7 linked regions of the Homo sapiens genome follow. The protein of the gene in region 4 purifies or fractionates together with the protein of the main gene of each other region. This does not show direct contact. Each region holds a gene or a part of one and is shown on either strand. Other genes may lie near its edges. The genes, in order: HIGD1A, NUP210, DNAAF5, MS4A4A, MON2, CSE1L and AGPAT2.

Region 1 (3,970 bases), on a different chromosome or scaffold from region 4:
ACATGCTTTTATATCTGCAGAAGTTTTTAGTTTTTAAAAGTGGATTATGGTATATAATAGTTTTGTCCCCTGTGTTGCAAGGAACTAAGACCTCAGGTTATTTCTCTTTTCATAGGTACAATATAAGAAACATAAAAGAAATAAGCACTTAGGTACATACAGTTAGGCATTTTTCTTACTGATTAAACTCTACAAATCTGTATGATTGTTATTTTTTTGTACTCAATATTACTGAATAACCTAAGAATGCTTTCAGTTGTTGAGAAATGTAACTTTTAAATGTATTCAAGAAACATTTGTAGTGTACATATTATATATAGGGTATTGCACCAGGCAGTGGAGTTGGATACAAGCAGAGCAGGTATTGGTCCCTGACTTGAAGGATTCTAGCAAAAGAAACAGACAAACTGGTGCTTATAAGGGTTATAAGGAAAGTACAAGGTCCTATGGGACTGCATAACCAAAGCACTTACGAACTTAAAGAGACAAAAATTTCTGAGAGGAGGTCAATTAAGATGTGAACCTGAGTCCAGTATGGTGGCACCCAGTGGCAGTGTGAACTGTGAGGAGTTCGCCGAGTTCCAGGAATTACTCAAGGTGATGTGGACAGTTGATACAGACTAGTACATTAATTAAACACTACAGTTCCAACAGCTTCCTTTGCAGGGAAGATTGATGCCAGCCAAACCTGTAAACAACTTTGAGTCTTTGATGGCAGCTCATGCCAGTAGGGACAGAGTCATAAAAAACTATATAGCCCAGACCTCAGCAGTAGTAAAAAACCTCTGAGAAGAGAGAGAAAAGAATTTGGACGATTTAATATTGTTAAAGCAACTCAGAACAGAGCAGGCAAAGTTGAAATGGATGTAGTCAGAATGATAAATGACAGGAGCTGGAAGGAGTTTAATGAATGCTGCCGAATTCACTTCAAACCTCCAAATAAACAGAATAAACGGAGATACTTTTTTTTTTTTTAAAGGACCGGGTCATCTCATAAGAGCTAAGCATGACAAATGTCAACAGGGCGGGCTTCCTAGGATGATTTCTGAGCCAGTAGTCCAAGACCTTTTGTTGATTTCAGCCCCACTTAGGCAAGACCTCAAATATAAATAATTCTGATAATTATGGAGAAATCAACTGCTATTTTATACTGATTCTGTTAAAAAAAAAGTTTTGTAACTATTAAAATAATGTTCTGACTCAGTGTAAAAAAAGAAAAACCAAACCTGAAAAAAAAAATGGGAGGAGTTAGCTAGGAAAGAGTATCTGAAGGGGATGGAAAGGGAGGGAAACTCTCACAAGTAGAGGAATCAGCTTGTGCAAAGGCTTAGAGGTATAGAGAGCATCTTAAAAATATTTAATGTGGTCAGAATGTGGGGTTGGGAAGGGAAATGAAAGGATTTGTGATAAACTTCCCCTTTGAGAAGGTCATGTTTTTTTTTTCTTTTTCTTTTTCTTTTTCTTTTATTTTTTAAAATTTGAGACAGAGTCTCTCTGTGGCCCAGGCTGGAGTGCAGTTGCACAATTTCAGCGCACTGCAACCTCTGCCTCCCGGGTTCAAGCGATCCTCCTGCCTCAGCTTCCCAAGTAGCTGGGATTTCAGGCATGCACACCACTATGCCCAGCTAATTTTTGTATTTTTAGTAGAGATGGGGGTTTCACCATGTTGACCAGGCTGGTTTCGAACTCCTGACCTCAAGTGATTGCCCACCTTGGTGCCCCAAAGTGCTGGGATTACAGGCATGAGCCACCGCACCTGCCCGAGAAGTTCATGATTAGATATGAAGGCAACTAGTAAACATACTGGCCTAAAATAAATACAGTGTTTAATCTCTCTATCCAGTCCATTTATGCAGTTTCTTCAAAGCCAGTCTCAAGTGTTTCTCTGTGAAACGTGCCAAACCTCCTTTAGCTAAAATACATCACTCTCTCTAAATTCAGACCTTGTCTGTGTTAGGCTTTTGACAACTAATTACACTGTGATTGAAACCACCATTGCAAAATTATAACTGAGACAGTGAAAGAGATCTGACCTAGCCAAAAAAAGATGGAGCCAGGCATGATGGTTCACGTCTATAATCCTAGCACTTTGGGAGGCTGAGGCGGGCAAATCACTTGGGGCCAGGAGTTTGAGACCAGGCTGGCCAACATGGCAAAACCCCATCTATACTAAAAATACAAAAAAAAAAAACCAGGCATGGTGGTGCACACCTGTTATCCCAGCTGTTAGGCTAAGGCACAAATCACTCAAACCTCGGAGGCAGAGGTTGCGGTGAGCAAAGATCGAGATCGTGCTCCAGCCTGCGTGGCAACTAGACCCTGTCTCATAAAACAAAAATAGAAAAATAAAGCAAAGATGGTAACAGCCCTTTCCTAAAACAAACCCCCTTCTTGCCTGGGGACTAGACTGCCTTTGTAGGTTTAATGAATTAGCCACAGATTAGAAATTATGGTTTAGGAGTCGTGCAGCTGGAAGTTATAAGATTCTTTTTTTTTTTTTTTTTTTTTTAATTTATTTTTTTATTGATAATTCTTGGGTGTTTCTCACAGAGGGGGATTTGGCAGGGTCATGGGACAATAGTGGAGGGAAGGTCAGCAGATAAACAAGTGAACAAAGGTCTCTGGTTTTCCTAGGCAGAGGACCCTGCGGCCTTCCGCAGTGTTTGTGTCCCTGATTACTTGAGATTAGGGATTGGTGATGACTCTTAACGAGCATGCTGCCTTCAAGCATCTGTTTAACAAAGCACATCTTGCACCGCCCTTAATCCATTTAACCCTGAGTGGACACAGCACATGTTTCAGAGAGCACAGGGTTGGGGGTAAGGTCACAGATCAACAGGATCCCAAGGCAGAGGAATTTTTCTTAGTGCAGAACAAAATGAAAAGTCTCCCATGTCTACTTCTTTCTACACAGACACGGCAACCATCCGATTTCTCAATCTTTTCCCCACCTTTCCCGCCTTTCTATTCCACAAAGCCGCCATTGTCATCCTGGCCCGTTCTCAATGAGCTGTTGGGCACACCTCCCAGACGGGGTGGTGGCCGGGCAGAGGGGCTCCTCACTTCCCAGTAGGGGCGGCCGGGCAGAGGCGCCCCTCACCTCCCGGGCGGGGCGGCTGGCCGGGCGGGGGGCTGACCCCCCCCACCTCCCTCCCGGACGGGGCGGCTGGCCGGTCGGGGGGCTGACCCCCCACCTCCCTCCCGGACGGGGCGGCTGGCCAGCCAGAGGGGCTCCTCACTTCCCAGTAGGGGCGGCCGGGCAGAGGCGCCCCTCACCTCCCAGACGGGGCGGCTGGCCGGGCAGGGGGGCTGACCCCCCCCACCTCCCTCCCGGACGGGGCGGCTGGCCGGGCGGGGGGCTGACCCCCCCACCTCCCTCGCGGACGGGGCGGCTGGCCGGGCAGAGGGGCTCCTCACTTCCCAGTAGGGGTGGCCGGGCAGAGGCGCCCCTCACCTCCCGGACGGGGCGGCTGGCCGGGCAGGGGAGCTGACCCCCCCCACCTCCCTCCCGGACGGGGCGGCTGGCCGGGCGGGGGGCCGACACCCCCACCTCCCTCCCGGACGGGGCGGCTGGCCGGGCGGGGGGCCGACCCCCCCACCTCCCTCCCGGACGGGGCGGCTGGCCGGGCAGAGGGGCTCCTCACTTCCCAGTAGGGGCGGCCGGGCAGAGGCGCCCCTCACCTCCCAGACGGGGCGGCTGGCCGGGCGGAGGGCTGACCCCCCCACCTCCCTCCCGGACGGGGCGGCTGGCCGGGCAGAGGGGCTCCTCACTTCCCAGTAGGGGCGGCCGGGCAGAGGCGCCCCTCACCTCCCGGACCGGGCGGCTGGCCGGGCGGGGGGCTGACCCCCCCACCTCCCTCCCGGATGGCACGGCTGGCCGGGCGGGGGGCTGACCCCCCACCTCCCTCCCGGATGGGGCGGCTGGCCGGGCGGGGGGCTGACCCCCCCTCACCTCCCTCCCGGACGGGGT
Region 2 (3,970 bases), on a different chromosome or scaffold from region 4:
TTTAACTCAGATGTGTATGTGGTGAAAGCTCTGAGCCTCACACCTGCTGTCTGTTGCTAAAAAGGAATTGATAAGGCAACGAAGGGATGGGGAGGGGCTGTGCTTTGGGGAAGGAGCTACAGAGGGCAGGGCCTGGCAGCAGCACCAGACCATTCCTGGGCAGGAGTCAGCTAAAGCTTCATGCCAGGATGGTCAGGAGATTCCAGGCAGGGAGTTGTGGGTCAGGGAGAGCAGGTGCTAGGGGCCACAGCCCTGTAGAGGGCGGGTGCAGCAGGGTAGGAGAGCTGATGGCTCCAGGTGGCTGGAGTCAGGAGCATGACCGGCACTGGGGCAGGCAGCGTGGCTGTCTCCTGAGGCTGCTGAGTGAGCCCCCATGGGGGTAGCGGCAGCCAGCGAGGAAGCTGGCCTGTCATCCAGGTGAGCTGGGCTTTGACTGGAGTGTCCAGCTATGGAAAGGGGGCTGACACCTGTGCTTCCTCTCCAGGCCTCTCAGGAACCTGGAGCTCCTCGGCCAACAGCATCCTCCACATCGACCCCAAGACGGGTGTGGCTGTGGCCCGGGCCGTGGGATCCGTGACGGTTTACTATGAGGTCGCTGGGCACCTGAGGACCTACAAGGAGGTGGGCTCTAAGCAGCCGGAGGCACATGTGGCTCAGTGGCCTGTGAGGCGGGCCTGACCTTCTGGGAGGATTATGAAGACTTTTCCTTTTAGGGAAAAGCCGTCTGAGGGGTTGGGTCTGGGAGTCATGAGTCTGGGACTGGCCACTTGCTGACTCTGACATGGGGACAAGCTCCCTTTTTTTTCCAGGCTTCAGTCTCCCCATGTTCAAGAGGGTGTGATGAGGACAGGCAGCCTTGTAGGGTGGATTCCAGCTCCCATGGGCTTGGGTCTGGCAACCCCGGAGTGGGCACTTCCTGGGAGCCGGTGCTTCCCTGTCACCTGCAAGGCTAAGACTCCCTGTGCAAGTCACCCTTTGAGTCTGGAGGCGACAAAACCTGCTGTCTCTTCCATTCATCTCCAGTTGAGAATGAATCAGTGGGGCAAGTCTGGCTGAGATCCAAATGCATCTCATTTTTAGAGGCAGCATGTGCTTTATGGAACCTAGCAGTTTAACCTAATTGTTTGCATATTTAGTGCTGCGGCTCTGCAGTTTGGGCGAGCCAGTTGCAGACAGAGGCATCCTGTGACAATACAGCTGTGCTCTCCTGGAAAGAGCCTCTGGTCAGGGGATGGGGTGGCATGGACAAAGGTGTGTAGGGTTCAAGGGCAGAGCCTCGGGGGCTGGAACAGAGGGTGTGGGAGAAGCATGGTCTGGCTTTGTGATCAGATCAGAAAATGCACCAGATTCCAGGCAGTTTGGTGCAGGTTGAGGGTGGGGCATCTACAGCTAGACGGTCTAGGTCAAATCCCAGCTTGGCCACTGCGAGGCTATGACTGAGCAATCATTGAGTCTCGCTATGTCCCGATTTTCTTGCCTGTATAATGGGGATGATAGCGTTGTGAGGATTTAGTGAGTTAGCACGTCAGAAGCCCCTAGGGTGGTGCTCAGCTCATAGCCAGTGCTCAGCAGAAATTAGCTGCTGCTGCTGCTGCTGTTCCAGGGTGAAGGGGTAGAAGCTTATGCCACACTCAGTGGAGTTTTTTAAACAGTGCTATAGACCAAGGCTGTGTTTGCAGAGGTTACCTGGCACCTGGAGGAGCTCGAGAGAGCAGTCGCTACAGGGTAACTGGCCAGAGACTGAGGCCAGGCCCTCAGCTGGGATCACTGGGTGTGGCAGAATCTAAAGGCAGGTTTGGGAGAGACGGGAGGGAGGGAGGCACATCAGAGCTCCATGAGCATCCAGAAGTGAGGCTGGAGGGGAGGAAGGGCTTGGGATGACCAGGCTGCTACTGGTCCTTTGCTGAGAGGGGCACACAGAGGTAGGTAGGCCTGCAGGGAGGTGAGGAGCCTGGGCCGGGGAGCTAGAGATGTCACAGCTCTCCCAGGTGAGGCAGGAGGCACACCTGGGTGGGTGCGGCAGGAGCACTGTGAGGAAGGCTGGACAGGGTGGGGGCCTCAGCCCAGAAGTGGCCTCTGAAGCCCTGGGAGTGGGTGGGAGTGCACGGGCACTCCAGGAGTGCAGGCAGGAGAGGGGCCAGGAAGCCTTGGGCACTCTCTGAGGGTGGACAGGGAGGAAGGGGAGAGGAGGGCCAGCGTTGGGGGGTCCCAGGCTAGAGAGTGGGACACAGCCTCTGTCAGTCCCTGGAGGTGGATGGTGGTAAGCCCTGAGCGGAGGCACCGTGAGTTTGACAGTGATGCCTGGTCACCTACAGCTCTGCATGGGCCACATCCCTGGGAGCTGCAGGGGCTTCAATCGCATCCCTGCTCTGAAGTTCACCTACTGGTAGAAATCAGATCTCCTGGAGGCAGGGAGCGCTGGTGCCTGCTGAGAGAGGGAGGGGGGCCTTCAGCTGCAGGAAGTGGCCTTGGGCCTGAAGGGTGGATGAGGCTGGGCTCTGCAGAGAAGATGGGAGGGTGTCCTAGCCAAGGGAGTGCAGGGAGGTCTCCAGCCTGGGGCTGTTTGGGTGTGGCCAGGTACAGGATGGGCACAGGGGGAACAGCTGGGAAAATCTGGGCAGACTGGATTCTGGGTGGGGTGTGGTGCTGTACTACAGAGAAGTGATCATGGCTGTCCGAACAGCCAAAATCCTCAGCCCACCCAGATCGATTAATGAATTCAGGCCCGCTGCTCAGCGTCCAGTCAGCTGCTGGGGGAAGCAGCTTGTTCAATGGGAGAACTGGGCTGTGAAGTCTGACCAGACTGGGCTCAAACCCCCTCTCTGCCACATTCTAGCAAGGCGTTTAGGCTTTGAGCCTCAGTGTTGCCACCTGTGAAACGGGTGACACTATGTCACAGACTGCAGGGTGAGGTTGTGGAAACGCCCAGCATGGACCGGGACACAGGCGGCGCTCCATGAAGCTTCCTTGGCTCCCTCTCTAGGTGGTGGTCAGCGTCCCTCAGAGGATCATGGCCCGTCACCTCCACCCCATCCAGACCAGCTTCCAGGAGGCTACAGCCTCCAAAGTGATTGTTGCCGTGGGAGACAGAAGCTCTAACCTGAGAGGTACTTAATGAGGGGCTTGGGCTGTCTTCAGAGTACCTGGGAGCGGGGAGGTGGCTTCCTGTGTCCTCTGGATGGAGTTTATCTGCTTCTCCTATTCACACTCACACCAACTCCAGAGAGGGCATTTAGCCCCCACTCATCCACTCCTTCCAGCGTTTCTGAAATTGGAGTCCTCCAAAAGCTGAGCCAGTGAAAGGAATCTTCATAATGGAGCCCAGCTCCCAGAAGGTGCCTGTTCTGCACTGGAAATGTGACTTCAGCCCGAGGGCACCCTAGCAAAGAAAGCCACAATTTCCCACCGTGAATCCCAGAAACTAATGAATTAGCAGGACTCGTCACTGGTTTTAATTTTTGTAATGACCTCTCCCAGGTCATGCATAGAATGTTGAACCCCATCCCCTGCCCATGACAGCCCTGAACAGCAGCTGCCAGAAATAAGTAAGTCAACAGGGCTGTTTTCTTAAACCACCTCACTGGCAGAGTGAAGCACCGCCCTTCTCGTCCTGATTAACGAGGCAGCTCTGTTCCATCATGGCAGCCTCTGCTCCTTCCTCAGCGCAAGTGGACAGCACTGTGCCGTTGCCTAAATGCTGCTCAGATGTTAGTGGAGAACTAGTGCCCTCTGAATGTGCAGAAGTAAATTGCCGTTTCCCCTGCTGACAGGGACAGAAGACAGGCATTAGTGGGCCTAGCCCGTCTGCCGTGCCCCTGGATGCAAGGTCTGGAACAAATGCTGAAATTCTGACTTGAAGCTCCCTGTGATGCCGATGGCATCCTCTTCCATATGATATGTCCTTGGCTTTACCAATCCTGGCTGCATCTCAAAGCTTTGAGCCGCCCTGGGGCCCTGCTGGAAGACATGC
Region 3 (3,970 bases), on a different chromosome or scaffold from region 4:
ACCATCCCATCCAGTCCCCAGGGTACCTGCACAGATCGCACGTCCTCAGGGGGCACTGACAGCCTGTTCCCCATCAGCCCTGCCTGGCGTTCCGATCTGTGCTTCTCACAGCCCAGCTGAGGATTTGCCAGAGACATTTGTTTAATTTTAAATTGAGCAGCAAATCCTTGAGCTCAGAAGCTGGAACAGCCTGGGTAGTTGGGCTCAATTGTTTGGAATAATCCATAGTTGTATTCCATGGAAGAAGAGGTGATGGCTTTGCTTTCATTTGAAGGTGAGTGGTCCCTGTCAGTGTGTGTGTTGGACTCAGCACCCCAGATATTTCTGGGACACAGGGCTGCCCCCACCAGGCGGCCGTGCCATGCAGGGCGGGCCTCAGCTCACCCCTGGAGGCACTTGCTCCGGCTCGATCGTTTCCGGCGGCTTCTATGGCCCCAAAGCTGGCCTGGGGCACGGGGACTTGCCACTGTGCTCTCAGCCCGGCCTGTCCTGTGTCAGGCTCCCTCTCCGTCCTCAGAACGAGAGGTGGGGCTGTTGACAGTCATTTTTGTAAACTGTTTTAAGAAACCTGTAAGCAGTTCCTGGAATACATAGAGGGAAGGAAACGGAGCTGGGGTAAGGAAGGGAGCGGGGGAGGGGCCCGGGCCGCGTGCTCATGGCATTTCAGCCATGCTTCAGCTTTTCCCAAAACCCGTTTTTAACACATCATCGAATGTGTGTCAGTTCTCCACTTTCCTTCACCCACGAGGGGTTATGAGGATGCCTTTGATTTCTGTATACAGATTTGCAAGCCAGAAGCATTTTTTCCTAGAAGGGCATAACTTGAAAATGTGCACAGGTGCCTAAATCCTTATCTCACAAACTTTATAGCAAAGAAAGTGTAGTTTTCACATCTCCATGTTGGTTACAGGAAAACGGAATTGTGTCATCCCACAGTTGTGCATTTGGCTCCCCATCTTCCAGTTTTATCGAGGAAAAATTTAATCACAATCTTTCAAACAGAGACGTCTTTCTGACAAAGTCCAGTCACACGGGACCCCTGGGAAGCCAGCCTCAACCTTCCAGGCTGCGAACGTGTGTCGGCCCTTTGGCCAAGGAGCCAGTCACAGTGAAAACCCAAGACGTACATTTCACTCCTTTCTTGTTTTTATTTTTTTGTTTTAGGTTGATCCTCCCACCTCAGCCTCCTGAGTCACTGGGACTACAGGTGTGCACCACCACACCTGGGTAATTTTTTTTTATTTATTTTTATTTATTTACTTTTTGGGACAGAGTCTTGCTCTGTCACCCAGGCTAGAATGCAGTGGCGCAATCTTGGCTCACTGCAGCCTCCGCCTCCCAGGTTCAAGCGATTCTCCTGCCTCAGCCTCCCAAGTAGCTGGGATTACAGGCATGCACCACCACACCCGGCTAATTTTTGTGTTTTTAGTAGAGACGGGGTTTCTCCATGTTGGCCAGGCTGGTCTTGAACTCCTGACTTCAAGTGATCAGCCCACCTCGGCCTCCCAAAGTGCTGGGATTACAGGTGTGAGCCACCGCACCTGGCCCCATTTTACTCCTTAACAGACTTAAATTTTTGGCAAGAAAGGGTGAAGGTACTCAGGTCTCAGTCAGAATCAGGCCCGTGGTTCTGTGCTCTTCCCACGCCCCTGTGCTCTTCCCGCGGCCGGCCGGGCTTTGTGTCATGTCATTTGGGAAGTCGATTATGTTTCCCACAGCTATTCTCCAGTAGCTATGAGAACAGGTTGAAAATGTCTTTCAAGAACAAACCGAAATTGTTTTAAAAGCTCGTGTTTAAACAGAGAAGTCCGTGTAAATGTATTCTAAACTGAGCCTGGCTTCACTCCCTGCCCTGGGGTTCACAGGAAATCTGGCTTTAGCAGTAGGTACTTCCAGGTGTCTCGGGCCCAGTAGGTCCCCTAGAGCTCGACAGACGGGAACTGGAGTCTCCTGGGAAGGAGTTTAGGACAGGTGTCTAGAGTGAGGAAATGGGTAACTCACCGATTTGCTTCTCACACAGGGAAGCCAGCAGTTGTGGGATGCCATTGCCATTGTTGAAATAGGAGTCTCTTGTGCTTTTCTGAATTAAAAACCTTTGCAGTCTTAGATAACATTGTTTCAGAAAACAATGTTTGAAATAGTATTTCAAAAAATACTGAGAATTATTTCCTGCTGTATCTTTTTTCTTTTTCGTTCTGTGTGTGTGCGTTGTATGTAGGCAGACACTGAAAATTGTCTGGTCAAATATAGAGAAATCTATAAATGTGAAGTCTTGTCACTTCCTCAGAGACGGTGCTGCGTTCGTGGCAGGAGGGTGGTGCTTGCTGCAAAGGATGCCTGATTCCCTGTTTGTTCCTGTGCTTGGAGGTGTGGTCAGCCAGGAGGGGCTGTGTCTTCTAAACGCACCTGCCTTTTGATTTTAACCGAAAAGATGATCGCTCCTGAAATGTACATGACAGGTCATTCTAGAAACTAGCCAGATATTGTCCTCAGAAGTCAGCCAGTTAGTACAGGCCTTAGAGAAATTGGGCTGTGGGAAAAATCAGGAATGGAATAAAAACAAATCTGTGGCTTCTGTGGGAGTTGGGGCCACGACAGGGCCACACGGCTCCTCCAGCTCCGAGGGAGACGGGGCCGCGCGGCTCCTCCAGCTCTGAGGGAGACGGGGCCGCGCGGCTCCTCCAGCTCCGAGGGAGATGGAGCCATGCAGCTCTGTGTCTTCTGTGGGTCAGGGCGGGGCCGGGGTGCAAGGACAGAACGCTGCTGTAGTACAGTGGGAGTGTTTTGTTTAGTCTTCCATGATTTACGTCAGTGGGGAATGAGGCTTAGAGTTTTAGAGCTGATTAGGAAATTTAGAACCAACCCATTGTCTAGCCAAATAATTACCAAACTTCTTTGAACTTGCACCCCCATTAGTAAAAACAGTTTTTAAGCATAGGCCTCCAATATATGTACACTGTTGATAAATCACGTGTTTAAATTACATGGCCACGGTCCTGACTCACTCTGTACTTTATGAAACATACATAAAATAGACATTAGAGGGACGTTATAAGAAGTAAATACAGGCCAGGCGTGGTGGTTCTTATCTATGATCCCAGCACTTTGAGAGGCCACGGCAGGAGGATCACTTAAGGCTAGGAGTTTGAGACTGCAGTTAGCCACGATTGCACCACTGCACTCCAGCCTGGGCGACAGAGCAAGACCCTGTCTCTAAAAAATAAGTTAAAATTTATTTAGAAAGAAGTAAGCACACGCAAAGCCTTAGGAATTCTTGGGTCCAGCACACGCCTGCTGTGTTGCGGGCTTCAGAGCCTGGCTGATTCACAGTGGATGAGGCTGGAGCCGGGAGGGGAAGCCATTCATCCAGCGCAGCCGTAGGTGCAGAGCTGAGACTCCACCTCCCCGTCAATCAGTAAACATGTTAAGCCATAGAATTTTATTTGTCTTAAAACTTGGTGTTATAGAAAAGCTCAAAAATGCACAGAAGAGGGGCAGGCAGCAGAGCGACTGCCAGCTTCAGCGCTGACCAGCCCTTGGCATGCGTGTTCTGCCTGCCTGGGGCCACTTTTCTTTTTAACTTTGGAGGGCGGGGAGAACTTGGGCATGTTGTAAAGCAGATAATGCAGTGCGCCGTCATTTCCCTCACAGGTGCCGTGTGCATCACTAACGCAGCTTCTCCACCACATAGCTCAAGTGCCTGTTCACATTTCACAAAATAAGCACAGATTCCTTAGCTCCCAGTCTGTGTTCAGTTTTCCCATCAACAAGCACGCCCTTTTATGGTTGACATGCCGGCACCCTACCTCCAGCGCCTGGGGGCTCTCCCTGCAAGGGCTCTCCCATGGCTGCTGCCCCTCGTGAGCCGTAGACTAGGAGCCCCGGGCGGGCTCTGTCGGCCCTGACACTGGGGCCGGAGCGGGAGCCCTGTATTAGTCCATTCTCATGTCGCTAATAAAGATCTACCACA
Region 4 (3,970 bases):
GCTATCTAACAATAAAACTGATTAAAGTCAGAAGAAGGGGGGTGAATTTCAGAGAAAGATAGAGGAGAAACGTTAAAATGAAAAGATTAATTATTTAGAACATTAATTTAACTTTAGTAATGTATATACTTAAAATTATGAAAAATAGTAAAATAAAAAGTACAAAATTACAAATTATAAAATAAGTATTTCTTTTAAAAAAGAAAGACAAATATAATAAATAAGAAATATATAATGTAAATGTGAATGAAGTAGTTAAGATAAGGAATTATATATAAGAATGTAACCAAAAAATCAATGTTCTTATTCTTTTCACTTTTAGAAAAGTTCCGAAAACAATTTGGACAAACAGAATTAGAACTCCATTTTTTTTATGAAAGTGGGAAACAACTAACATTTCTATAAATCAGGTGAAATGAGTGTTAGAAACAAAGATTACATGATGATAAATTTGGGGAGAAGTGTAGTGAGAGTATGAAAGAAACAGGACACCATGGCCACAGATTTCAGAGTATACTTATCAAGGATGAGAGGCCCCCCCTGAGGTGTACAACATAAATTACTGTTTATAATCCTGGGAATTAAATACATCAGTTGATAACTGTCACTTCCCTGGAAAAGTATAGTTCTGAGAATCATCGAAGTCAGTAGTAAAGGAGAAATCACCAAAAAGACACATATTTAGAAGGCAATCAGTCTCTGAATAAGTCCTCCATTGGAGTCCATAAAGAAGGAAGTAGATATCCTTGATACAAGCCTGCAAGAAGTCCCACAGATTAGGAGCATCTGGATATATATCACATATAGAATATGTAAAGAGTATAGATAACTTATTTAAATGAAAATTAAATCACAAACATGAAGTCAAAGATAAAGCACATAGAGTGACAGGACATATTTGGAACATAATCTCAAATTTCAAATACAAAATAGTGTTGACAGAAAACAATTGGCCAATGTGTTAAATAACAAGGAATAGCTGAAAATAGAATTAGTCAACTGGAAGAAAAATTTGAAGAAATCACCAAGAATTCTGTAGAGAAACAAGAAAATGGTCATAATAGAAGGGAGGTTAAAAGATTAGAAGTGTAGAATTAAAAGGTCTACAATATGTCTGATTAGAATTCTAAAGAATGTCACCAAGAAGGCCAACGAGAAGTTCCTAACCCTCATCATCATCAACACACACACACACACACACACACACACATACACACACACACACACACACTCCCCAAAACAATGAATAAACAAATGCATTCCAACTAAAGTAACTAAAGAAGAGCACCTGAAAACAGCAAAGGAGTAGCAGAAATCTTGTAGATCATAGAAACCCAGGATGGCTACATGAAGAAGGAGATAAAACACCTTTCTTCCACCACCCCTTCCCCCAGTTAGGACAATCTCTGAGTCAGCAGAGCCTTCTTCCTGCAGGGAGAAGGTAAGCGAGAGGACCCCAGCAGCTCCCATCACCACCATGGATACCTGTAATCTTACTACTGGAGACACTTAGAGTCTTCACAGGCTCTGAGCTCAGCTGATGGAGCTACCTGAAGTCCACATGTCTGTCCTATCCCAGAGGTGGTGCTGACACTATGCCCTGGCCTCCATGGCCTGAGCTGCTACTGTGTTGCCCCTTCTTGGAAACGAATCACTGCTACAGTGCATTCTGCTTCAGAAGTGAGTAGCTATTGCACACCTCTATCTCTGAGGCTTAACCACCACTACACCACACACACCTGGTAGCCATACCTGAGCCAAACTGCTGCTGTCTACTCTCTACCTGCTGAGGCCAGGCTGCCATGGAACTGCTCCATGCCCCCATCTTAGTTGCTGGTGCACACTGCCCCTCCAAATTCAAGCTGAAACTGTGGCCCACTCTCTGAGGACATATAGCTTTGATTGAGCTGTGTCACCCAACAATCCAGGCAAAATAACTGCAGTGCCCCACCTCCCTAGAACTGACTAGTTCCCTGGAGTCCAAGCTTCTGAGAAACCCTGGCTCCCCAGGGGGTCATTTCTATACTGCTTCAAGAAACCCAAGGACCAAGCCACAGACACGCTTAGTCATTCCTGAGGCCTTGCTGCTGCTACATCCAGCCTTACACAGCCTGGGATATTGCCATGCCCTACCATCCCAGTGTCTAGAGTTACCACTATGTGGCACTCCATCACCCAGGGATGGAGTTGCTGCAGTGTCCTAGTGGCTCTGGAACCAAAATTTCAACTGTAACCTGCTCCCCAGAGCTCAAGCCTCCAGAGCACCCCTCTTTCCCTGGAGCCATGCTGGTGTTGTGCACTGACCCCAGAATCAGTAACTCTTCCATCCCTGCCCCATGGGCTTGAGTTACTGAGGTTTGCTTCAAAGTTACAGCCTCAGCTTTGTGGGTAATCTGCATCCATCCATGCCTTGGTGAGTGAACCTGTGCCACAGTAGTTTTGCAAGACTCTGAGCCTAAGACCCCAGCTCCACAGCCACTATAATACTTGTGCCTAAAAAGTACAAGCTGTCAATCTCGATGGCAACCATGTGGTGTTAACTCTATAGGCTCACAGACTGCAAGAGTTGTAGGGGCATGGCTTTCGCCACCTAGTTTCAAAGGATGTCACAAATAGCTATGGGAGTGGAGCCACTTCAAAGAGCCTCCATCAGGGCAATGCTGAGTGGAAATATGGGGTCAGAGCCAACACAGAGTCCCAGTTAGGGATATGCCTAGTGTAGCCATGGTAGTGAGGCTACCTTTGAGATCTCGGAACTATAGGGCCACTAGCATGCAACGCCAACCTAACAGAGCTGAAGCATGGACTGAGCCCAGCAAAGATATGGGAGCAGGACTGTCTGAGGGCCCCAATCAGTGTCCCCAGGATTTAGGACATAGAATCAAAGGAAATTATTCTCCAGATTTAAAGCTTAATGCTGTTTTCTTGGTTGGGTTTTGGACTCACTTGAAACCACTTACACCTTTTTCTTGCCTAGTTATTTCTTTTGAACTGAGAAAGTCTATTCTGCACCTGTTTCACCATTATATTTTGAAGACAAATCACTTGTTTTGATTTCACAGGCTCACAGCTGGAAACATTTGCCTCCAGATAAATCATACCTTGAGTCTCATCCATATCTGCTTCTGATGTGACTCTGGACTTAGAACTTTAGAGTCAATGCTGGAATGGGTAAAAATTTTGAGGCTATTGAGACAGAAGTATTGTATTTTGTATGTGAGAAGAACATGAGTTTTGGAGGGTTGTAGATGAGATGCTATGGTTTCAATGTCCCCTCTAAAACTCATTTGAAAACTTAATTGCCATTTTAACAGTATTAAGAGGTGGGACCTTCAAGAGGTAATTACATCAGGAGACCTCTACCTGCATGAATGGATGAATGTCATTATCCTTGGAGAAGGTTAGTTATCACAGGAGTGGACTCCTGAAAAAAGAATAAATTTGGCCCCATCTCTCTCTCTGCTTTGTACGCTCACTTCCACTTTCCTTCATGGGATTATCCTCACTAGAGGTTTACACCATGCATGCCTTTAGACTTCCCAGCCTCTAGAGCTATAAGCAAAATACAATTTTATAATAAATTACCCAGTCTTCAATGGTTTTTTACAGCAGCAGAAAACAAAGATATCAAAAATTTAGTTTTGTGGGAGGACAGTACAAGTCTAGAGTTCTTGTTTCAACAAACATTGTTATTGTCACCTTAAAATAGTCAATTTATAAAACTACGTGGTTTTATGTAAGCCTAATGATGAGTACAAGGCAAAGAACTACAGCAGATACACAAACGTTAAAGAATTCAAAGCTTAGCAATTCATAAAATTACTAAATCACAAAGGTAGACCAGAGCACAAGAAAGAAACAAATATCTACAAAAACAAACCCCCCCAAAATAATAAAATGTCACTAGTAAATCCTTATCCATTAATGCTAACCTTAAATATAAATGAATTAAATCTTTGAACAAAAGTCA
Region 5 (3,970 bases), on a different chromosome or scaffold from region 4:
GGTTTGCGACCAGCCCAGGCAACATGGCAAAACCCTGTCACTATGAAAAAATACAAAAATTTGCCAGCCGTGGTGGCATCTGCCTACAGTCCCAGCTACTCAGGAGGCTGAGGTGGGAGGATCATTTGAGCCTGGGAGACAGAGGCTGCAGTGAGCCAAGATAGCCCACTGCACTCCAACCAGGGTGACAGAGTAAGACCCTGTCTCAAAAAATAGAAACAAAAAGAAAAAGAAAAGGATGTGGAATACTGAGAGGGGAAACAGGGAAGTACAGTCTTACAAAACTCAAAACTAGAGGGTTCCAAGATGGAAAGAATAACCAATAGTAACAAATAATGAAGCAAGGTAAACAAATGGGAACAATAACAAAAACAAGAAAGTTGTAAAGGCATGTGCAGCATGATATAATGGAAAATGGGAGAGGAGTTAGAGATGGACTCACATGGACTCACATACCATTTCCACCATTTCCACCATTTTCCAGCTTTACTACCTTATGCAAATTACTAAACCTGTCTATACCAGTTTCCTCATCTGTAAAATGAAATATTTAATATGGCATGTTGCATTAGAGTCTAAGGATGCAAAGTTCCAAGCCTAGTGGGAAGGCAACATTTTATTCAACCTTGAGTTAACTTCATGAGACTAAAGGCAATTTCTCAATTATTTCTGTGTTCCTGCTGTGCTTTTTTAGGAGACTCATAAATTTCTGTTAAATTATAACAGTAACAGCAAAACCTTCTACTTCATACATGGTTGAAAATGTTCAGCTATGCTTACATAAAGGAAAAAAGAAAAATAAATCAAATTTTGAAATATGTCTTCCTTTTTGGCTTATAAGTTAGAGAATATGTCTTTTATTTTTTCTGTCACCAAAGCACAGGTAATCATTTATTTCAGTTTATAGCTTTCAATATATAAAGCATGAATATATTATATTACGCTTATGGGAGAAAGAACACAATGTCAAGAGGAAGAAACCACATTATAAAATACTAAACCAAAACAGATCCCAAGTAAGCTCGTAAAGATTATCCAGCCCTCATCTTCAATGTCATAAGGTCGTGCAAATGAGGTGTTAACCCAACCAGGAGAGCCAATGACATTAGTCACAGTCCCTAAATATCTGATTAAATGGCAAATCCTGTCACAGTAAGTAGAAGGCATCTCTTTCACTAGGGGTCTCCCTAAGCCAGTTAACAAAGCAAAACACCTGGATACTGAGGAACTCTATCACAAGAAACCTTTGCTTTTCTCTGCCAGCCAATTTCTATTAGGCCTGAATGGGTAACAGGAAACTTAAACTACATAGCCTAGGAAGACTACTTGCACTTTTAAATTATTTATACCCTTACTGATTCTGCATCATTTAAAAAGAGAGAAAAGGAATCTATCCAATTCCCTAATTCTGACCACCTAAACTCAAATGAACTTCTTTCCCTTTACTCTTCTACCACCCATTCCCTGGACTTCATCATCCTCTAGTGCTGGGCAATCTGAAATGCAATATTCCCACCATTGTCCCAACTCCTATCCTTCTAGCTCTCTCACTCCCCAACCCCACTGCTCTTTGATGAAATAGGTGCTGCTAGCCTTTAACCTTCCCATCATCATCCAGTCAATCCAAACTATTGGCTTTCCTTCTTTGGGAATCCAACCTAGCTCTCACAATCCACCATTATTTCAACCACTCTTCCTGCTAAGACTCTTAAGTGTTCCAAGACAATTTCTCCTCCACTTCTCCAAAGTGATCCACTGCTCTCCTCAAACTTGCCACCCCCTACTTCTTTTATCACTTAATTATTCCTACTAACAAGCTTGTTTCTTATCTTCGCAAGAAAGCAGAGGCCACAGACCAAACTGCCCACAACTTGTCGCTCCCTTCTGTCAAATTTGTCACATTCAAACCCGGTTTTTCCTTTGTCCTTCCTCTGTCAGAAGGTAATGTGTCCTTTCTCAGATTGAAATCCTGTTCATATACTTATGCCACTGAAACTTCAGTTTTCTCAAGGACCTTCCTCTAACGAGTTTTACCTTTCTCTCCTGTATCTTTAACCTCAGTCTGCCCAGCAGCCTTTTTCTTTAATGTTGTTTCCCACAGTTCCTTTTCCAGTCCTGATATTCTCACTCTATACACACACTCTTCCTGGCCCATTTCATCCAATTCTATGGTTTCAAATATTATTTATAAACTGATACTCCTAAATTTGAAATTCCAGACTTCCCTCTTAAGTGCCAAACCATCATTTTCAAACACCTACTGGTCAGTTCCACTTGGATGTCACACATAAATCTTAATATAATGACTACTCTGCTGGGTGTGGTGGCTCACGCCTGCTATCTCAGTACTTTGGGAGGCCGAGGCGGGCAGATCACCTTAGGTCAGGAGTTCGAGACTAGGCTGGCCAACATGGTGAAACCCCGTCTCTATTAAAAATACAAAAAATTAGCCAGGTGTGGTGGCACGCGCCTGTGATCCCAGGTACTCAGGAGGCTGAGGCGGGAAAATCACTTGAACCTGGGAGGCGGAGGTTGCAGTGAGCCGAGATTGTGCCACTGTACTCCAGCCTGGCAACAGAGACTCCGTCTCAAACAATATACACACATGACTACTCATTTTCCCCCAAAACATTTCCTCCTCTTTTATTTCTTCTCTTAGTGATCCACCTAGTTTCCCAAGCCAGAAACCTGGGAGGCATCACACATTTCTCTCTCTCCATTATATAAAAGATTACCATGCCTTGGTAATTTTTACCTTTTCAATCTATACGCTCTTTCACTACTGTCTAACTCAATGCAAGCAACCTTCTGTCTATGTCCACTACTGCTTCAAAACAGAGAATCATCATTTTTTAAACTTTGCTCTCTTTGCTTCAGTCTCAATACCCTCTAATTCTTCCTACCAACTGTCAAGGCAATGTTACTAAATATCAATTTGATCATATTACTCTCTTTCAAAAAGCTCTAATGGCTCCAATCATCTTCAGTATAAAATTTATTTTACATGGAATACTAACAACGTGTGCTATTTCCTCTGCTAGGAATGACTCCCCTCCTCCAACTTCCAGGCTCAGTTAGATACCCCTCATCTGTACCTGCAAATAGGAAATAATAAGAAAGTTTTTATTCATGAAATACATAAACATAAAGCTTCAGAGTTGTCTTCCTCTAAAGGCCACTGAATATTAATCACATAGAAGTGATCATGGAAGGCTTCAAAGTAATTTTTAAAACAAAGGAAAAAATTTCATACAATATTCCCAAATTAGCTAGTACAGTTGTACTAAAAAAAGTTATACTGCTAAAACATGAAGATTTATGTATAACAACTAAGAAAAATAGAAAAAAAGAGAAAGAGGTTATTATAAAATGACAGAATAAAGCCATAGCCACTACAACAACAATTTAATATACAAAGGATAGAGTTATAAATGAAAACAGTAAGGTAGGAAAAACCATGTAGAAGTCCAAAGACAGTAAGTAAATATCAGTAAATAAAGCACTATTCTTTATCAATACTCTTTTATTGGTTTTTCTAACAGATTTGAAATCTTTAAATCCAGCTTATTATTAATTTTAAAAAAGAATTACATGGGCAGCCTGGGATACGCCTATAATCCTAGCACTTTGGGAGTAGGAGGTGGACAGATTGCCTAATCGCAGGAGTTGGAGACAAGCCTCGGCAACATGGTGAGACCCTGTCTCTACAAAAAAAATACAAAAATCAGCTGCGTGTGGTGGCATGCACCTGTAGTCCCAGCTACTCAGGGGGTTGAGGTGGGAGAATCACTTGAACCCAGGATGTCAACGCTGCAGTGAGCCAAGATCCTGCCACTGCACTTCCAGCCTAGGTGAAAGAGATCCTGTCTCAAATAAATAAATAAATAAATAAATAAATAAATAAATAAATAAAATAATAGTCAAGCACTATGGCCATAAAAGACAGAAATGACTAAAAATTTGAAATAAA
Region 6 (3,970 bases), on a different chromosome or scaffold from region 4:
GAATAGGTAATGCTCAGGCTGTGAAGCCTGTGTATAAAATGTTTTGTCCACGTGGTAAGGGAACTTATAAAAGTGGTGTTCTTAATATTTTAATCAAAAGTTTCAAGTCAGTGTTTATTCTGTAGGATCTCCCTGAATTTTTTGAAGATAATATGGAAACTTGGATGAATAATTTTCATACTCTCTTAACATTGGATAATAAGCTTTTACAAACTGATGTAAGTATTTAAAATGTTGCCTGAGTGGTCTTTTTCTTTCATTAAGAGTTATTTGGCTACAGTCTGGAAACCTATTTACTCTTGCATTGTTAAAAGATAAAATTTCAATACTGTAATAATATTTGATTCTATTTGATGTTACATGTTTGGTGTGTGTAGTATACAGAATTACTCTTATCATGGGCTTGGCTTAAGCCATAGTGTACATATAAGGCTGTTTCATTACATTATTGAAAGTAGGTCTTTAAAGTAGTGACATTATGGATATTTCATGAAATAAAATTATTTTTCATTGAAGATACTAAGAAAACTTAAAACTCTATAATGGTAGCCCCTTTTTAAAAATCATCTGGCTAGGCATGGTGGTTCACACCTGTAATCCCAGCACTTTGGGCGGCCAAGGTGGGGAGGATCCCTTGAGCCCAGGAGTTCAAGACCAGCCTTGGCAATGTAAGGAGACCCCCATCACTACAAAAAATAAAAATAAAATTAGCCAGATGTGTTGGCTCATGCTAATGGTCACAGCTACTCAGAAGGCTTAGTTGTGAGGATCCCTTGACCTTGAGCCCAGGAGGGCAAGGCTGCAATGAGCTGTGACCATGCCACTGCACTCCAGCCTGGGAGACAGAGGGAGACCTCGTCTCAGAAAAAGAAAAAATTATCCACAGCTCGAGAAAGAGAGAAAATGGTAAAAGATTGTAATTTGTAAATATTTCTGATATGGGTTTTATATTGTGTACTTTTAAACATATAACACTTATTCTGTGCTACTCATTTGTTAATATATTTATGACCTTCTTTCCGAAGAGACAAAAGACAAAATATTAAAAATATTTCAATACCAAATAAACTAAAAATTAGAATTGGTGATTCAAATCAGGTTTTAAGAGTGGGGTACAGAAAGAAATTGTTACTATCGTTGTACAACAGATTTTGTCTCAGAGTTTGACTATATTAATAGGAACTTTAAAAGATGTAGCTCTCATAAAATAATTATTTCAGTCCAATGGGAGGGAAAAACACTCCTTCAGAAAACAAAACTTTTCTTCACACAAAAGTCACAAGGAAATTTTTTGGATAGAATTCTTACAAGGACCTTTTTGCCCAGTTAACCATGTGCTACCTTGTGCTACTATTTATGCCTTAAGTAATCAGTGTGAGGGAGTTTTGGTTTTGGCTTTGGTTTTTGTTCTTACTCTGATGTCTTCCCTTGTCTCACTCTGTCACCAAGGCTGGAGTGCAGTGGCATGATCATGACTTACTGCAGCTTCGACCTCCCTGGGCTCAAGTGATCCTCCCACCTCAGCCTCCCAAGTAGCAGGGACTATGGGTATGCACCACCATGCCCAGCTGATTTTTTTTATTTTGGGGGCTTGCTGTGTTGCCCAGGCTAGACTCAAAACTCCTGGGCTTGGCCCGTCGCAGTGGCCCACGCCTATAATCCCAGCACTTTGGGAGGCCGAGGCCATCCTGGCTAACACGGTGAAACCCCGTCTCTACTAAAAAAAAAAAATACAAAAATTAGCCGGGCGTGATGGCGGGTGCCTGTAGTCCCAGCTACTTGGGAGGCTGAGGCAGGAGAATGACGTGAACCCAGGAGGCGGAGCTTGCAGTGAGCTGAGATCGCGCCACTGCACTCCAGCCTGGGCAACAGAGGGAGACTGCGTCTCAAAAAAAAAAAAAAAAAACCACTCCTGGCCTCAGGCCATCCTCCAGCCTCAGCCTCCCAGAGGGTTGGGATTACCGGCGTGAGCCACTACACTCAGCCAGAATATACTGTTTGAATCTAATACGGAAATATTTTGTAATTCAGCAACTTATTTGAAAGACTTGGTGAAAAGATTGGTGGTGGCATAGCTGTAGTTTACAATAACTGATTTGATTTGGATTTAATTGATAAAGAGTCTAGTTCAGGAATTTCAGTTACTCCTCTTACTTATGTTAGCATTAGAGTTGTATGTTGGAGTTTTTGTTTTCTTTTATGTGAGGATGAAGAGGAAGCCGGCTTATTGGAGCTCTTAAAATCCCAGATTTGTGATAATGCCGCACTCTATGCACAAAAGTACGATGAAGAATTCCAGCGATACCTGCCTCGTTTTGTTACAGCCATCTGGAATTTACTAGTTACAACGGGTCAAGAGGTTAAATATGATTTGGTAAGATGATGGTGGAGACAAATAATTAAAAGACATTCTCTCCCTATCTCCTCCAAGAAATAAGCTGTTGAGTTTTGCTTTTAAAAATATTCTTGTTTTTGTGTTTTGTTCCAGTTGGTAAGTAATGCAATTCAATTTCTGGCTTCAGTTTGTGAGAGACCTCATTATAAGAATCTATTTGAGGACCAGAACACGCTGACAAGTATCTGTGAAAAGGTTATTGTGCCTAACATGGAATTTAGAGGTAATTATGGCAAAAGTATATTAGTATAAATCTACTAAGTCTGTGTTTGTTTTTTGTAACATATTCAGTCTAATTCATTTATTACTGGATAAAACTTGTATGTCATTTATTTCTTATTTTCTAAACCAAGACAGAAAATGTAGTATCTGTAATGAGTTTTGTTGTGCCCTGTGAGGGTTTTCTCATGGAAATATTAAATAAGACTTCAAAAATTCCTTTACACTAAGAAGATAAACTATCTGGAATTTCTATTTAGAGAAAGAATTTGATTTTGTTTCATTTATTATTTCAATGAATTTTTAGCTGGCTTTATTTATTTATATATTTATTTGAGACAGGGGTCTCGCTCTGTCACCCAGGCTGGAGTGCAGTGATGCAATCTTGGCTCACTGCAACCTTAGCCTCCCAGGCTCAAGTGATCCTCCTACCTCAGTCTTCTGAGTAGCTGGGACCACAGGCACACATCACCATGCCTGGCTAATTTCTTGTATTTTTGGTAGAGACAGGGTTTCACCATGTTGTTCAGGGTAGTCTCAAACTCTTGAGCTCAAGCAGTCCACCCGCTTTAGCCTCCCAAAGTGCTGGGATTGCATTTCTGAGCCACCTCGCCCAGAAATAGCTGTTTTTAAACAATCGACTTGAGAATAGAAATGATAACTTTATAAATACAAGGTTGAAGCCCACTTAGTTTGTGCTTAAGGTTAAACTATAGTGCTAAGAGCCTATATTTATAAAATGTATGTCCTTGTTCTAACAGTTGTGAAGAACAAGTAATGAAGGTGGGAGGGATTGTGTTTTTTGTTTTGGGGACAGGGTCTCACTGTGTCACCCAGGCTGGAGTGCAGTAGCACAGTTATGGCTTACTGCAACCTCAACTTCCCAGGCTCAAGTCATTGTCCCACCCTGGCCTCCTGAGTAGCTGGGACTACAGACGTGCACCACCATGCTCAGCTAGTTTTTTATTTTTTATAAAGATGGGGGTCTTCCTATGTTGCACAGGCTGGTCTCAAACTCCTAGCTTCAAACAATCCTTCTGCCTCAGCCTCTCAAAGTGCTGGGATTACAGGCATGAGCCACCATGCCAGGCCAAGATTTTGTTTTATATCAAAATAGTTATTAGATCAGTGGTTTTCAAATTACATCTGGAACAAAATAAGGAAATTAAGGACAATATAGCGTGAGATTTTATTTCCTGTTGTGTTTTCATAAAAATATGTTTAAAGGATAAATCTTCTGGCTGGGTGTGGTGGCCCATACCTTTAATCCCAACACTTTGGGAGGCTGAGGTGGGAGGAACACTTGAGCCCAGGAGTTAAAGACCAGCCTGGCCAAAATGGCAAAACCTTATCTCT
Region 7 (3,970 bases), on a different chromosome or scaffold from region 4:
CCAGCCACACTGTGGGCTGCAGAGTTCTAGAGAGCCACAGCCTCCCGCTGGCCTGGGGCAGCCTCCGTCCGTCCATCTGTCTGGCCTGAGGACCAGGGGCCGGTGGTGGGCGGCGGGACACAGCGCCTGCTCAGCACCGCCTGCTGGGCGGGGGTTTGTACCCCGTGTCTTTCACAGCTGAGAGAAGTATCAGTGCACGATCCAACCCCTAAGCAGCTTAGATTAAAAAAAAAAAAAAAAGGAAAAGTTTTGGAGCTAGAGGGTGGTGCTGGCCACACGGCAGTGAATGCGCCGAGTGCCACGGAACCGTGTGCTGAGAAATGGGTACAATTATATTGTTTAGGTGGTGCGTGTTATACCACAATCAAAACAGAGGAGGGCTCGGCGCGCTGGCTCCTTCCTGTCATCCCAGCACTTTGGGAGGCCGAGGCGGGCGGATCATGAGGTCAGGAGTTTGAGACCAGCCTGGCCGACATGGTGAAACCCCGTCTCTACTAAAAATACAAAAATTAGCCGGGTGTGGTGGCGCACACCAGTAGTCCCAACTACTTGCTAGGCTGAGGCAGGAGAATCGCTTGCCGGGAGGTGGAAATGGCAGTGAGCTGAGATCTCGCCACTGCACTCCAGCCTAGGTGACAGCAAGACTCCGTCTCAAAAAAAATAAAAAATAAATGAAGATCTTATTTTTTAATAATTTCAGATTTACAGAGAAGTTGCAAAGATATTACGGGGGACCCCATGTGGCCCTCACCAGTTTCCTCCCTTGTTAACATCTTACATCACCAAGATGCAGTTGTTAACACTAAGAAACTAGCTGGCCGGGCGCGGTGGCTCACACCTGTAATCCCAGCACTTTGGGAGGCCGAGGTGGGAGGATCACCTGAGGTCAGGAGTTCGAGACCAGCCTGGCCAACATGGTGAAACCCCGTCTCTACTAAAAATACAAAAACTAGCCAGGCCTGGTGGCAGGCACCTGTAATCCCAGCTACTCAGGAGGCTGAGGCAGGAGAATTGCTTGAACCCGGGAGGCAGAGGTTGCAGTGAGCTGAGATCACACCACTGCACTCCAGTCTGGGTGACAGAGTGAGACCCTGTCTCAAAAATAAAAAAGTAAATAAAAGATGGAACTGGCCAATGTCACTACCAGAGGGAACCAATGTCCCTTTCAGATGTGGCCCGAGCCTCCTGCAGGCAGCTAGCTTTGGAATTGCAGGTGTGTCTTGGCTGCTGCTAGAAATCATACACATGTCCTTCACAGGAGATGAGTGTGGACCTGTCCTGTTCTTTCCCCGCGCCCCAGCTGTCTGTGAAATGGACCCTAATTTACTTTCCCTCTTTCTACTGGTGGCTATTTAAGCATTTTCAGGTTTTCCTAATTCACTGCACACTTCAGCACCACAGGCTTCTCACTCCAGCCGTCGGGCGAATTCCTGGAAGATTCTGAGAGGGGAGGGGCCAGGTTTCCTCAGGGCTCTGGCCGGGCCTGCCAACCTGCCCTCCACAGAAGTATCTTGTCTGTGCGACTCCTCACTCCTGCCAGCCGCTGGGCCTGTTCCCAACACCCTGGCTGGCACCTCCTGTTATCAGGCGTTTTAATCTGTGCCAGGGGGAAGGATGAGGACAGTCTCTTGTTTCCATTTGCGCTTCTTTGATTGGCGACACGGCCGTCTTGCTAGCACCAGACAGTTCTGTGTTTCCTGTTGGTGAACTGCCGGCTTTTGCCTCCTCGTCTTCTTGGAGCGTCACAGGGGTCCGGGAAGCTGGATTGCGCAAATGAGTGTGGAGGCAAAACAGCCCTGCAGTTCCCCTGAGTGTGCGGGTGCTACCAGCCCGGGTGTGCCTTCTGGGTGGGAGGGGACGGTGGCCGGCGCGGCCTGGAGAGGAGATATCTAGAGTTGGCTGAGGAAGGCAGATCTGAGGAGGCCCCAGGCTTCCAAGTCCAGGGACGGACGGCTGGACTCATCACCAGAATTAACCATTAGGCCCCCCTTGACTCAGTTTCCCCATCTGCAACAGGGGGTCATGAGCATTGCCCCATCAGCCTGAGGTGGTGCTGCCGCAGGCCTGGGCTCACACATGGAAGGGCAGAGTGCCAGGGCTGGGGAGGGGACAGGGGTTTGTGTCGCATGGGAACAGACGTCAGCCAGAGAAGGTGGAGAGTTCTGGAGATAGAGGGAGGAGATGGCTGCTAGACACCGAATGTGCCCAGCGCCCATGAACTGTGCACCCGGAAAAGGCCAAGGAGATACATTTTATGTTACGTGTATTTTACCACAATTTTTTTTTAAAGGCCGGGCGAGTTGGCTCAGGCCTGTAAGCCCAGCACTTTGGGAGGCCGAGGTCGGCAGGTTGTTTGAGCCTAGGAGTTCGAGACCAGCCTGGCCAGAGATGGTGAAAGCCCATCTGTACCAAAAATACAAAAACTAGCGAGGTGTGGTGGCTCACGTCTGTGGTCCCAGCTAGTCAGGAGCCTGAGGTGGGAGGAGCCCAGGAGGTGGAGGCTGGAGTGAGCCCAGATTGTGACACTGCACAATGTGACACATTGTGTCACAGAGCAAGACAGAGCAAGGGGAGCCTGGGTGACAGAGCAAGACCCTGTTAAAACAACAAAAATCCCCACCAGTATGGCTTTGAGAGAAGGCCCCGGCTTTGAATCTCTGCTCTGTGGCCTGGGGCAGTTACTCAGACTCATCTGTAGAAAGTGTGGGGCCCTTAGGACTGCTGGGGGATCAAATGGTGGGGGGCACTAGTCTGCATGGAGAGGGGAGCAGCACTGGCAGCCCCCCAGTCAGCGCTGGCACAGCCTTGCCCCGGCCATCCACCCCTGCTGGAGCTTCGGAGTGGAGCTCCGTCCTCCTGGCTCCATCCCCGCCGGCTGCCCTGTGATGGGGTGCCCTATCTGGGGTGTGCCCAGAGCTTCCTGGCAGCACAGCAGGGCAGAGGTTGGGACGCTCGGAGCTGGTCAGAGTCTTCGGGTACCCCTTGGACATCCCTGGTCCCAACCATGACGGGCTGCTTGGACAAGGCCACCTCACATTTGCAGGTGCTCCAAGGGCAGCCCCCAGTGGGCTGGGCCCCTGCCAGAGTGGGGGCTGCTGTGGCCAGGGCTCAGGTGGCCCAGACCCTGGCTCTGCTGCTGCTCCTGGTGTGACCTCAGACAAGCCCCGAGCCCCTCGCCGCCTCTTCACGGGGAAAGGGAACCGGCCTGATTCTGTAGGGTAGGGGTGAGAGAGGGTCTCGGTCTCGGCTCTTTTCTGGAAGAACCTTTCGGAGGTCGTTTCAGAGGTCTCCACTGGCGCCGACACTTTCTTCCTGATGTGGCCCTGCCTTGAGGGGCCAGTGACCTTCCCCAGGGTGTGTGGGGCCCCATTTCCTCTGCTGGGGTGCAGAGGCTGCTCTCCCCGACGTGGGTCCTTCATAGCGGACGTGAGAGCCAGTGCCAGTTCCTTTCCGGCTGGGTCCCCTGTGGGGTGGATGAGGGCTGGGTGGGCCCTGGATGTGGATTTGGAAGTGGGCGCCTTCCCATGCTCCTAGCATCCGAGTTCCAGAGGCTCTGGGTTTTCCTCTGTTGCTGGGGAGACGGAGGCAGGGCAGCCGTCCAGGTGGGTGAGCCGGGCCCGGGACTCTGTCCGCTTCAGGGGCTCCCTCCCCTGTGTCTCCCGGTCTCCTGCCCCGTGCCAGGAGGGCCCCTCCCCAGCCTCCTCCACACCCCACCCCCAGGCCTTCGCGCCCCAGCCTCGGCTGCGGGATCTGTGGGACCCGTGTTCATGGTGGCCTCCCCTGCAGCATCATCGGCTGGTTCGTGCGAAGCTTCAAGTACTTTTACGGGCTCCGCTTCGAGGTGCGGGACCCGCGCAGGCTGCAGGAGGCCCGTCCCTGTGTCATCGTCTCCAACCACCAGAGCATCCTGGACATGATGGGTAGGCCGGGCCTCGGGGGTGGCTTCTGGGGTTTGAGTGGGGCCGGCTGA

Evidence for each region.
Region 1: the proteins of MS4A4A (region 4) and HIGD1A purify together in Homo sapiens (affinity purification with mass spectrometry; one large-scale study listed by BioGRID and IntAct). This does not show direct contact.
Region 2: the proteins of MS4A4A (region 4) and NUP210 purify together in Homo sapiens (affinity purification with mass spectrometry; one large-scale study listed by BioGRID and IntAct). This does not show direct contact.
Region 3: the proteins of MS4A4A (region 4) and DNAAF5 purify together in Homo sapiens (affinity purification with mass spectrometry; one large-scale study listed by BioGRID and IntAct). This does not show direct contact.
Region 5: the proteins of MS4A4A (region 4) and MON2 purify together in Homo sapiens (affinity purification with mass spectrometry, with the first as the bait; one large-scale study listed by BioGRID). This does not show direct contact.
Region 6: the proteins of MS4A4A (region 4) and CSE1L purify together in Homo sapiens (affinity purification with western blotting; one study listed by BioGRID and IntAct). This does not show direct contact.
Region 7: the proteins of MS4A4A (region 4) and AGPAT2 purify together in Homo sapiens (affinity purification with mass spectrometry; one large-scale study listed by BioGRID and IntAct). This does not show direct contact.

What each region holds. Positions count from the first base shown.
Region 1 is NC_000003.12:42,797,837-42,801,806, reverse strand, and holds part of HIGD1A (HIG1 domain family member 1A, mitochondrial), read left to right. Parts: intron 1-3,970. UniProt on the Homo sapiens protein: Proposed subunit of cytochrome c oxidase (COX, complex IV), which is the terminal component of the mitochondrial respiratory chain that catalyzes the reduction of oxygen to water. May play a role in the assembly of respiratory supercomplexes.
Region 2 is NC_000003.12:13,322,446-13,326,415, reverse strand, and holds part of NUP210 (nuclear pore membrane glycoprotein 210 precursor), read left to right. Parts: intron 1-484; coding exon 485-621; intron 622-2,983; coding exon 2,984-3,107; intron 3,108-3,970. UniProt on the Homo sapiens protein: Nucleoporin essential for nuclear pore assembly and fusion, nuclear pore spacing, as well as structural integrity.
Region 3 is NC_000007.14:757,436-761,405, forward strand, and holds part of DNAAF5 (dynein axonemal assembly factor 5), read left to right. Parts: intron 1-3,970. UniProt on the Homo sapiens protein: Cytoplasmic protein involved in the delivery of the dynein machinery to the motile cilium.
Region 4 is NC_000011.10:60,286,836-60,290,805, reverse strand, and holds part of MS4A4A (membrane-spanning 4-domains subfamily A member 4A), read right to left. Parts: intron 1-3,970.
Region 5 is NC_000012.12:62,469,826-62,473,795, reverse strand, and holds part of MON2 (protein MON2 homolog), read right to left. Parts: intron 3,096-3,970; exon of another isoform or gene 3,018-3,095; intron 1-3,017. UniProt on the Homo sapiens protein: Plays a role in regulating membrane trafficking of cargo proteins. Together with ATP9A and DOP1B, regulates SNX3 retromer-mediated endosomal sorting of WLS away from lysosomal degradation.
Region 6 is NC_000020.11:49,070,080-49,074,049, forward strand, and holds part of CSE1L (exportin-2), read left to right. Parts: intron 1-125; coding exon 126-218; intron 219-2,206; coding exon 2,207-2,374; intron 2,375-2,488; coding exon 2,489-2,618; intron 2,619-3,970. UniProt on the Homo sapiens protein: Export receptor for importin-alpha. Mediates importin-alpha re-export from the nucleus to the cytoplasm after import substrates (cargos) have been released into the nucleoplasm.
Region 7 is NC_000009.12:136,677,373-136,681,342, reverse strand, and holds part of AGPAT2 (1-acyl-sn-glycerol-3-phosphate acyltransferase beta), read left to right. Parts: intron 1-3,786; coding exon 3,787-3,920; intron 3,921-3,970. UniProt on the Homo sapiens protein: Converts 1-acyl-sn-glycerol-3-phosphate (lysophosphatidic acid or LPA) into 1,2-diacyl-sn-glycerol-3-phosphate (phosphatidic acid or PA) by incorporating an acyl moiety at the sn-2 position of the glycerol backbone.